Homo sapiens: one gene and its partner. The protein of the gene in region 1 purifies or fractionates together with the protein of each later gene. This does not show direct contact. Each region holds a gene or a part of one and is shown on either strand. Other genes may lie near its edges.

Region 1 (3,423 bases):
ACTGTTAAGGAGCCATGTGAGGAAGATCTTGAAGGTGGCAGAGTTGGCTAAAGCCCAGATGTGCACTGGTGGAGAGTAGGGGCTAAAATCAGGACGAGAACCTGAGAAAGTAGAGGGGCTGGCTGTGAGGAAGCCAATAGAGATTTTAGAGCAGGGAGGTGAAACTTTATTTATTTAGTTAGTTAGTTGAGACAAATTTTCACTCTTGTTGCCGAGGCTGGAGTGCAATGGAGCGATCTCAGATCACTGCAACTTCCGCTTCCCGAGTTCAAGCAATTCTCCTGCCTCAGCCTTCCGAGTAGCTGGGATTACAAGCATGCGCCATCATGCCCGGCTAATTTTTGTATTTTTAGTAGAGATGGGGTTTCTCCATATTGGTTAGGCTAGTCTTGAACTCCTCACCTCAGGTGATCCACCCGCCTTGGCCTCCCAAAGTGCTGGGATTACAGGCGTGAGCCACCGCGCCTGGCCGAGGGAGGTGAAACTTTACAGGCTCCAAGACTAGTGTCCCTGGAAGGCAGAGGAGCCTTGGGCTGCTCTGTTGGGTTCTGGGCCCCTGGCCGCAAGTTTCTGTATTTCCTGATCTCTAGTACTCTGATCCCGGGTGTTCCAGCTTGACGGCTCTGCTCTGATGCTGGGTCCAATGCCTCTGATCGTATCTCTGTCCATCCTTCTCATTCCCACCCAGGTACTATCGTGGTGCAGTGGGGGCCCTCCTGGTGTTTGACCTAACCAAGCACCAGACCTATGCTGTGGTGGAGCGATGGCTGAAGGAGCTCTATGACCATGCTGAAGCCACGATCGTCGTCATGCTCGTGGGTAACAAAAGTGACCTCAGCCAGGCCCGGGAAGTGCCCACTGAGGAGGCCCGAATGTTCGCTGGTGAGAGCCTGCCACTACCCAGGCTGACTCCTCCAAGCTTAGCCCACCTTTCCCTTGCAGTCTCCCAGCCCCTGCCCCCACCCATAGAGCCCCTAGCCTGGCCTTCCTCCATACAGTCCTCTACCCCATCCCCTCTTCCTCAGGATTTCCCAGCACTTCCCCTTTGGGACCCTGTGTCTCCCATGATGTCCCACCACTTGCCCTGAGATTGTCTTTATTGATTTTTTTTTTTTTTTTTTTTTTGAGACCGGGTCTCAATCTGTTGCCTAGGCTAGAGTGCAGTGGTGCGATCTCGGCTCGCTGCAACTTCCACCTCTTGGGTTCAAGCAATTCTCATGCCTCAGCCTCCTGAGTAGCTAAGACTACAGGTGTGCGCCACCATGCCTGGCTAATTTTTGTATTTTTAGTAGAGATGGGGTTTCATCGTGTTGACCAGGCTGGTCTCGAACCCCTGACCTCAGGTGATCCAGCTGCCTCGGCCTCCCAAAGTTCTGGGATTATAGGTGTGAGCCACTGTGCCCGGCCCGTAGTTAATTTTAAGGCAGCCCCACCCTGTAATGCTCAAAGATCCTATGGAGAGGATAGGCTTCCCAGGAGTTTTCTGAGTTTAGAGGCAGCACAATATGGTGGTTAAGGGTGTTCTGGAGTCCCATGGCCCAGTCTCCCATCTGCTCTTGGCCAGTTACTAAATGTGGGACATGGAGCAATTTCCTTATTCTTTTTCTTTTTCTTTTTTTGAGAGGAGTCTCGCTCCGTCACCCAGGCTGGGGTGCAGTGGCACGATCTTGGCTCACTGCAACCTCCACCTCCTGGGTTCAAGCAATTCTCTGCCTCAGCCTCCCGAGTAGCTGGGATTACAGGTGCCCGCCACCATGCCTGGCTAATTTTTGTATTTTTAGTGGAGACGGGGTTTCACCATGTTGGCCAAGCCGGTCTTGAACTCCTGACCTCGTGATCCACCCACCTCAGCCTCCCAAAGTGCTGGGATTACAGGCGTGAGCCACCGCACCCAGCCCCTTATTTGTTTTCTTTGTGTTTCTGGATTCAGTTTTCTAAATGAACCTACCTTGTAAGTTGTTTTAAGGATTAAATGATCTGCTACATGCCAAGAGTTTAGCACATGGCAAATGTATATAGCAAACATTAATATTATTATTATTATTGCCTTTGACTCCCACAATTAATGGTGTGTTTCCCTTCCTGGCAGAAAACAATGGACTGCTCTTCCTGGAGACCTCAGCCCTGGACTCTACCAATGTTGAGCTAGCCTTTGAGACTGTCCTGAAAGGTTAGAGCCTACCTTTATTCTGCACCCCTATTCCATCCCCGTGGCTTCTACAGGCAGCAGTAGGAATGCAGACACTCAGCCCTCACCCCAGCTAATTTCTCAGCTCCTCTGTGGGTCCTGGCACCACTGCCTGTCCCCCTCAGTCCCTCCCCAGTGCCTCCCACTCAGTCTGGAGCTCAGGGAGGGAACAGGCCACACTCCCCATGGGGCTGACTCTTGGTTCCTTCTCCACCCAAGTAAGTAGAAGGGACCCCTATGTCCACACTTCATTTCCTTCCTGCAAAACCTCCTGCAAGTGTGGCCACCCCCCATGCTCAGAAGGGGCATGCAGTATGTATGGGGGGGTTGGGGAGAAGGGAGCATGGGCTCTAAATCTTCTGGCCTGATCACTGCCCTCTGCCCTCCCAGAAATCTTTGCGAAGGTGTCCAAGCAGAGACAGAACAGCATCCGGACCAATGCCATCACTCTGGGCAGTGCCCAGGCTGGACAGGAGCCTGGCCCTGGGGAGAAGAGGGCCTGTTGCATCAGCCTCTGACCTTGGCCAGCACCACCTGCCCCCACTGGCTTTTTGGTGCCCCTTGTCCCCACTTCAGCCCCAGGACCTTTCCTTGCCCTTTGGTTCCAGATATCAGACTGTTCCCTGTTCACAGCACCCTCAGGGTCTTAAGGTCTTCATGCCCTATCACAAATACCTCTTTTATCTGTCCACCCCTCACAGACTAGGACCCTCAAATAAAGCTGTTTTATATCAATGCCTGGTCATTCCACTGCCTCCCGTCTGTTCCTCCCTCTTCTCCTTGTCTGTGCCTCCCCTTCAACTTTGGCCCCTCCTCTGAGTCCCTAATCCCCTTCCTCTGTCCTCCCCACCATACCTACTGCCCCTCAGGGCCAGCTGCCTCTGGAGTTCTGTGGTCTGGGGACAGTGCCAAGGGGATAGGAGGTGCCTGCCCTTCCCTCTGCCAACCCCCAGGGCAGGTGGGGGAGGGAGGAGAGCATGGAGGGGAGGGGGTATATCTGGAAGGCGAGACAAAGGAAACCATCGGCGGGCACCATCTGGTGCTGAGGGCCCTGGTGCCAACAACTGAGGTCACTCCAATGCCAGGGGCAAGGGGAGGAGGCAGCGGGAGATACAAGGGGAGAAGAGGGAGTGGGGGCCAGTCCTGTAGGTGTGTACTGGGGAAGGGGTTTTTAAGCCTGAGAGGTGCAAGGTCCAAGTCCTCCATCCAGTCTTTTTTTTTTTTGAGATGGAGTC
Region 2 (4,104 bases), on another chromosome or scaffold:
TAAGTGCAGTGGCTCATGCCTGTCATCTCAGCACTTTGGGAGGCCAATGTGAGTGGATCACCCGAAGTCAGGAGTTCGAGACCAGCGTGGTCAACATGGTGAAACCCCGTCTCTACTAAAAATACAAAAATTAGCCGGGCATGGTGGCGGGCACCTGTAATCCCAGTTACTTGGGAGGCTGAATTGCTTACACCCAGGAGGGGAAGGTCGCAGTGAGCCAAGATTGCACCATTGCACTCCAGCCTGGGCAAAAAGAGTGAGACTTCATCTCCAAAAAAAAAAAAAACGGATAAACGGTCTTTGCAGATGTAATTAAGTTGACAGTACTGAGATACGATCATCCTGGATTAGGGTGGGCCCTCAATCCAATGAGAAGTGTCTTTATAAGACAACTGGAGAAGAGTCACAGAGAAGAAAAACCTGTATGAAAAACAGAGGCAGAGACTGGAGTAATTTGGTACCTGGGGCCACCAGGAGCTAGAGCTACAAGAGGCAGGAAGGAGCCTCCTCTGGAGGCTTTGGAGGGAGCGCAGCCCTGTGATACCCTGATTTCACACTTTTGGCCTCCAGAGCTTAGAGAACAAACTTGTGGGGTTTGGTGGGGAGGGGAATTCTGTTTTGTTTTAGAGATGTAGTCTTGCTCTGTTGCCCAGGCTGGAATGCAGTGGTGAGATCATAGTCCACTAAAACTGGAACTCCTGGGCTGGAGTAACTTTTTTACTTTTTGTTTTTTCAATCCTGGGCCGGCTACTTTTATTTATTTATTTTTATTTTTAGAGGTGAGTGGGGCGGGGGTTCTGGCTATGTTGCCCAGGCTGGTCTTGAACTCCTGGCTTCAGCCTCCAGGGCAGCTGAGATTACAGGCAGAGCCACTGCGCCAGGCAAACTTGGGTTGTTGGCAGGGCGGGGTGGCTCACGCCTGTAATCCCAGCAATTTGGGAAGCCGAGGCGGACGGATCACGAGGTCAAGAGATCGAGACCATCCTGGCCAACATGGTGAAACCCTGTCTCTACTAAAAATACAAAAATTAGCGGAACGTGGTGGCGGGCGCCTGTAGTCGCAGCTACTAGGGAGGCTGAGGCAGGCAAATCGCTTGAACCCGGGAGGCAGAGGTGGCAGTGAGCCGACGTCGCGCCACTGCACTCCGGCCTGGCGACAGAGTGAAACTCCGTGACTGCACTCCAGCCTGGCGACAGAGTGAGACTCCGTCTTAAAAAAAAGAAAAAACAAAACAACAACAACAACAAAACTTGGGTTGTTCTAAGCGACTCGTTCGTGGTCATTCATTCCAGCAGCCTGTGGCGGTGCACACGCCCCTCTCAGCGCAGCCAGGGGCTGGCACCCCCATCCAGGTTGTTCTCAGCCCGCTTTGAAGCCTCCACGGGAAGGCGCAGCGGAGCAGGGACGCGGAAACGCCGCAGCTTCCCAAGCCTCACCCACCTCGCAGCGTCCGCAACCAGTCCACGTTGGGAGCCTGCAGCGCTTCCGGGTCCGTGACGACCCCGCCGGGCACGATGCGCTCAAAGGCGGCCAGGTCCTGCTTAGACACCGTGGAGAACGGCAAGCGCCGCACGGGGTAGCGCTCCCGGGTCAGCGGCACCTCGGGGGTCCCCGGGGCGGAGCAGCAGCCTCTGCGGGCCAGGGGGCCAACCGGCCGACCCCAAGAACCCGCGGCTCCCGGAGCACCCCGCAACAGCCACGCGGGCCACGCCAGAGGCCGACGGGGCAGCATCGCCGCCGGGACGGAGACCTCGGGCTCCTCCTTGGTGGGGGGCCGGTACTCAGGGCCCGGAGGGGAAGGGCAGGGAGCCGCTGGCTGCGCGCCTGGAAGTGGCCAAGGGTAATTTCATGTTTTATGCACGTTGTACAAATTGAAACACGCTTGCAGAAGCAGGGAGGGGGCAGGAGGGCAGCGAAGGGAAGGCTCCGAGCACCCGGGCCCTCCCCCTGCCCGGGCCGCAACCCCGCGAGCGCGCGAAGCCCCACGCAGCAGGCCTGGACTTAGCGACGCGCAGGCTCGGGGCGGCCTCGCCGGGACCTTGCCCAGGACCCCGTTCCTCCGAGCTCGCCCCCCGAGGGGATCCCGCGGACGCGCGCGCGTGTTCCACGCGGTCACGTGACGAGCTGCAGCGCCGTCCCCCTCCCCCCACAGGCACCGACTGGCTGACGGCGCCCGAGATCGCGCCCCGCCACCCCGACCCGCGGCTGAACCGCAGACCGGGACCCTCAGCCCAGCGCTCCGCGCGGCCGCGCGCACGCACCCACGATCACGTCCCGAGCTCCAACCCGCAGCGCCCGCCGCAGGCCCAGAGCCGCCGAGCCGGAGTGGGCGGGGCGACGCCGCGCCTGCGCATTGACGGCTCCGCCCAGCGGCCGAAGCCCCGCCCCGCGCGCCTAACGGGCCCCGCCCCGCCTGCCCTCCAGGCCCAGCCCTGCGCGCCTACAGTCCCCGCCCCGCCGTCCAAGCCCCGCCCCGACTGGCACCGGAGGCTCGACGGCCACCGCCTCGTCCTGCGTTTCCTGAGGGCCTCCGGCGCGCCGGCTGTCGGGCGCATCCCTCCAGGTAGAGAAGGGACTAGGCTGAGCGCAGCCCAAGACGCCCAAGCAGCAGCTGGAGGGTTCTCCAGAACGAGGCCCGGGACGTGGGCTCGGCCGAGGGACCTGGGGGCCGGCCCGCTCCTCCGAGGCCGAGCCCAGGGGGCGCCCCTTTCCCCAGCGGCCTCCCCAGCTCCTGCACGGACCACCCCTCCTGGGTCCCCAGCCTTAGCTTAGGGGGCAGCTGCCTCCTGCAGGTGTTTTCTTGCCTCCCTGTCCCTTCTGCCTGTTCAGCCCTCCGTGCCCTCAAACCCTTTGCACACCTGGGGAGCTCCTGCCCTCCTGACGCAGTAACTGCTGTCCCGAGGAGCCTCCCGGCCTGGGATCCCCTGCCTGAGGCATCGCCAGCACTTGTTTTGTGTTTTTTTGAGACAGGGTCTAGCTCTGTTGCCCAGGCTGGAGTTCTGGGGTTGATCTCAGCTCACTGCAACCTCTGCCTCCCGAGCTCAAACCATCCTCCCACCTCGGCCACCCAAGTAGCTGGGACTACGGGCGTGCACCACCACACCCGGCTAATTTTTTGTTGTTGTTGTATTTTTGTAGAGATGAGGTCTCATGTGCTGCCCAGGCTGGTCTCGAACTCCTGGACTCAAGCGATCCGCCCGCGTCGGCCTCCCAAAGCACTTGTTACTTCAGCTCACCCAATTCCATAGAACCCTAGCGGGTGCAGAGGATGCCAATCTCTGAGCAGATGAGGGCAGAGAGCAGGAGACCACACTTGGCCCGAGGCAGGACTGCGGAGCTGTGCAAGAGGTGGAGGCTACGCCCGTGACAGCAGATGGGTCCTGGTAGTCACACAGAAAACCGGCGAGCTGGATTTGTCCTGGTGATGAGGCTCTGGAGCAGCAGTTGCAAGGAGTCATTCCTGTCCTCCTTAACCACATCCCCAGAGGCCACTCACCTTCTTCCCAGGTGAATCATTCATACAACCCTGGAAAGGAGACATCCACCTGGCCCTTCCTACCTGGCTGGCCCTTGCTCTGCAGATGAGTGTGGGAGTTTGCCCATTGTCAAGGGTAACTGTTGCAATTACACATTCAGGAACTGGAAAGACGACCACAGATGAGGTCTGTGGACCCCCTTACCACCTGACCTCCACACGCCCTCCCTTTGACTAGCAGGCCAGTGGCATCTTGGACCCCTGGGATTAGGAATGATTCAAAACCCATAAAGATTACCACCCATACCATCCCCTAAAATAACTGATTTTTCTGACCAGGCACGGTGGCTCACGCCCATAATACCAGCACTTTGGGAGGCTGAGGCAGGTGGATCACCTGAGGTCAGGAGTTCGATACCAACTGTGGGCGGCAAGCCACCCAGGTGCCGAGGCAAGAGACCGAAGACACGAGCTGTTCCAGTATAATAAAATAAGAATAGTTATACCAGATATAGATCTTAGATATGATTATATATGAATATCATTAATCATTAGTTGGTAGCAATTACTCTTTATTCCAATATTATAATAATCCTCGCTCTACAATCATAACCTAGGAAAAACCAGG

The links.
Region 2: the proteins of RAB25 (region 1) and D2HGDH purify together in Homo sapiens (co-immunoprecipitation; one large-scale study listed by IntAct). This does not show direct contact.

What each region holds. Positions count from the first base shown.
Region 1 is NC_000001.11:156,067,582-156,071,004, forward strand, and holds the end of RAB25 (ras-related protein Rab-25 precursor), read left to right. Parts: intron 1-688; coding exon 689-882; intron 883-2,089; coding exon 2,090-2,170; intron 2,171-2,578; coding exon 2,579-2,706; 3' UTR 2,707-2,923; downstream 2,924-3,423. UniProt on the Homo sapiens protein: The small GTPases Rab are key regulators of intracellular membrane trafficking, from the formation of transport vesicles to their fusion with membranes.
Region 2 is NC_000002.12:241,732,854-241,736,957, reverse strand, and holds the start of D2HGDH (D-2-hydroxyglutarate dehydrogenase, mitochondrial isoform 1 precursor), read right to left. Parts: upstream 2,329-4,104; 5' UTR 2,263-2,328; intron 1,826-2,262; 5' UTR 1,734-1,825; coding exon 1,442-1,733; intron 1-1,441.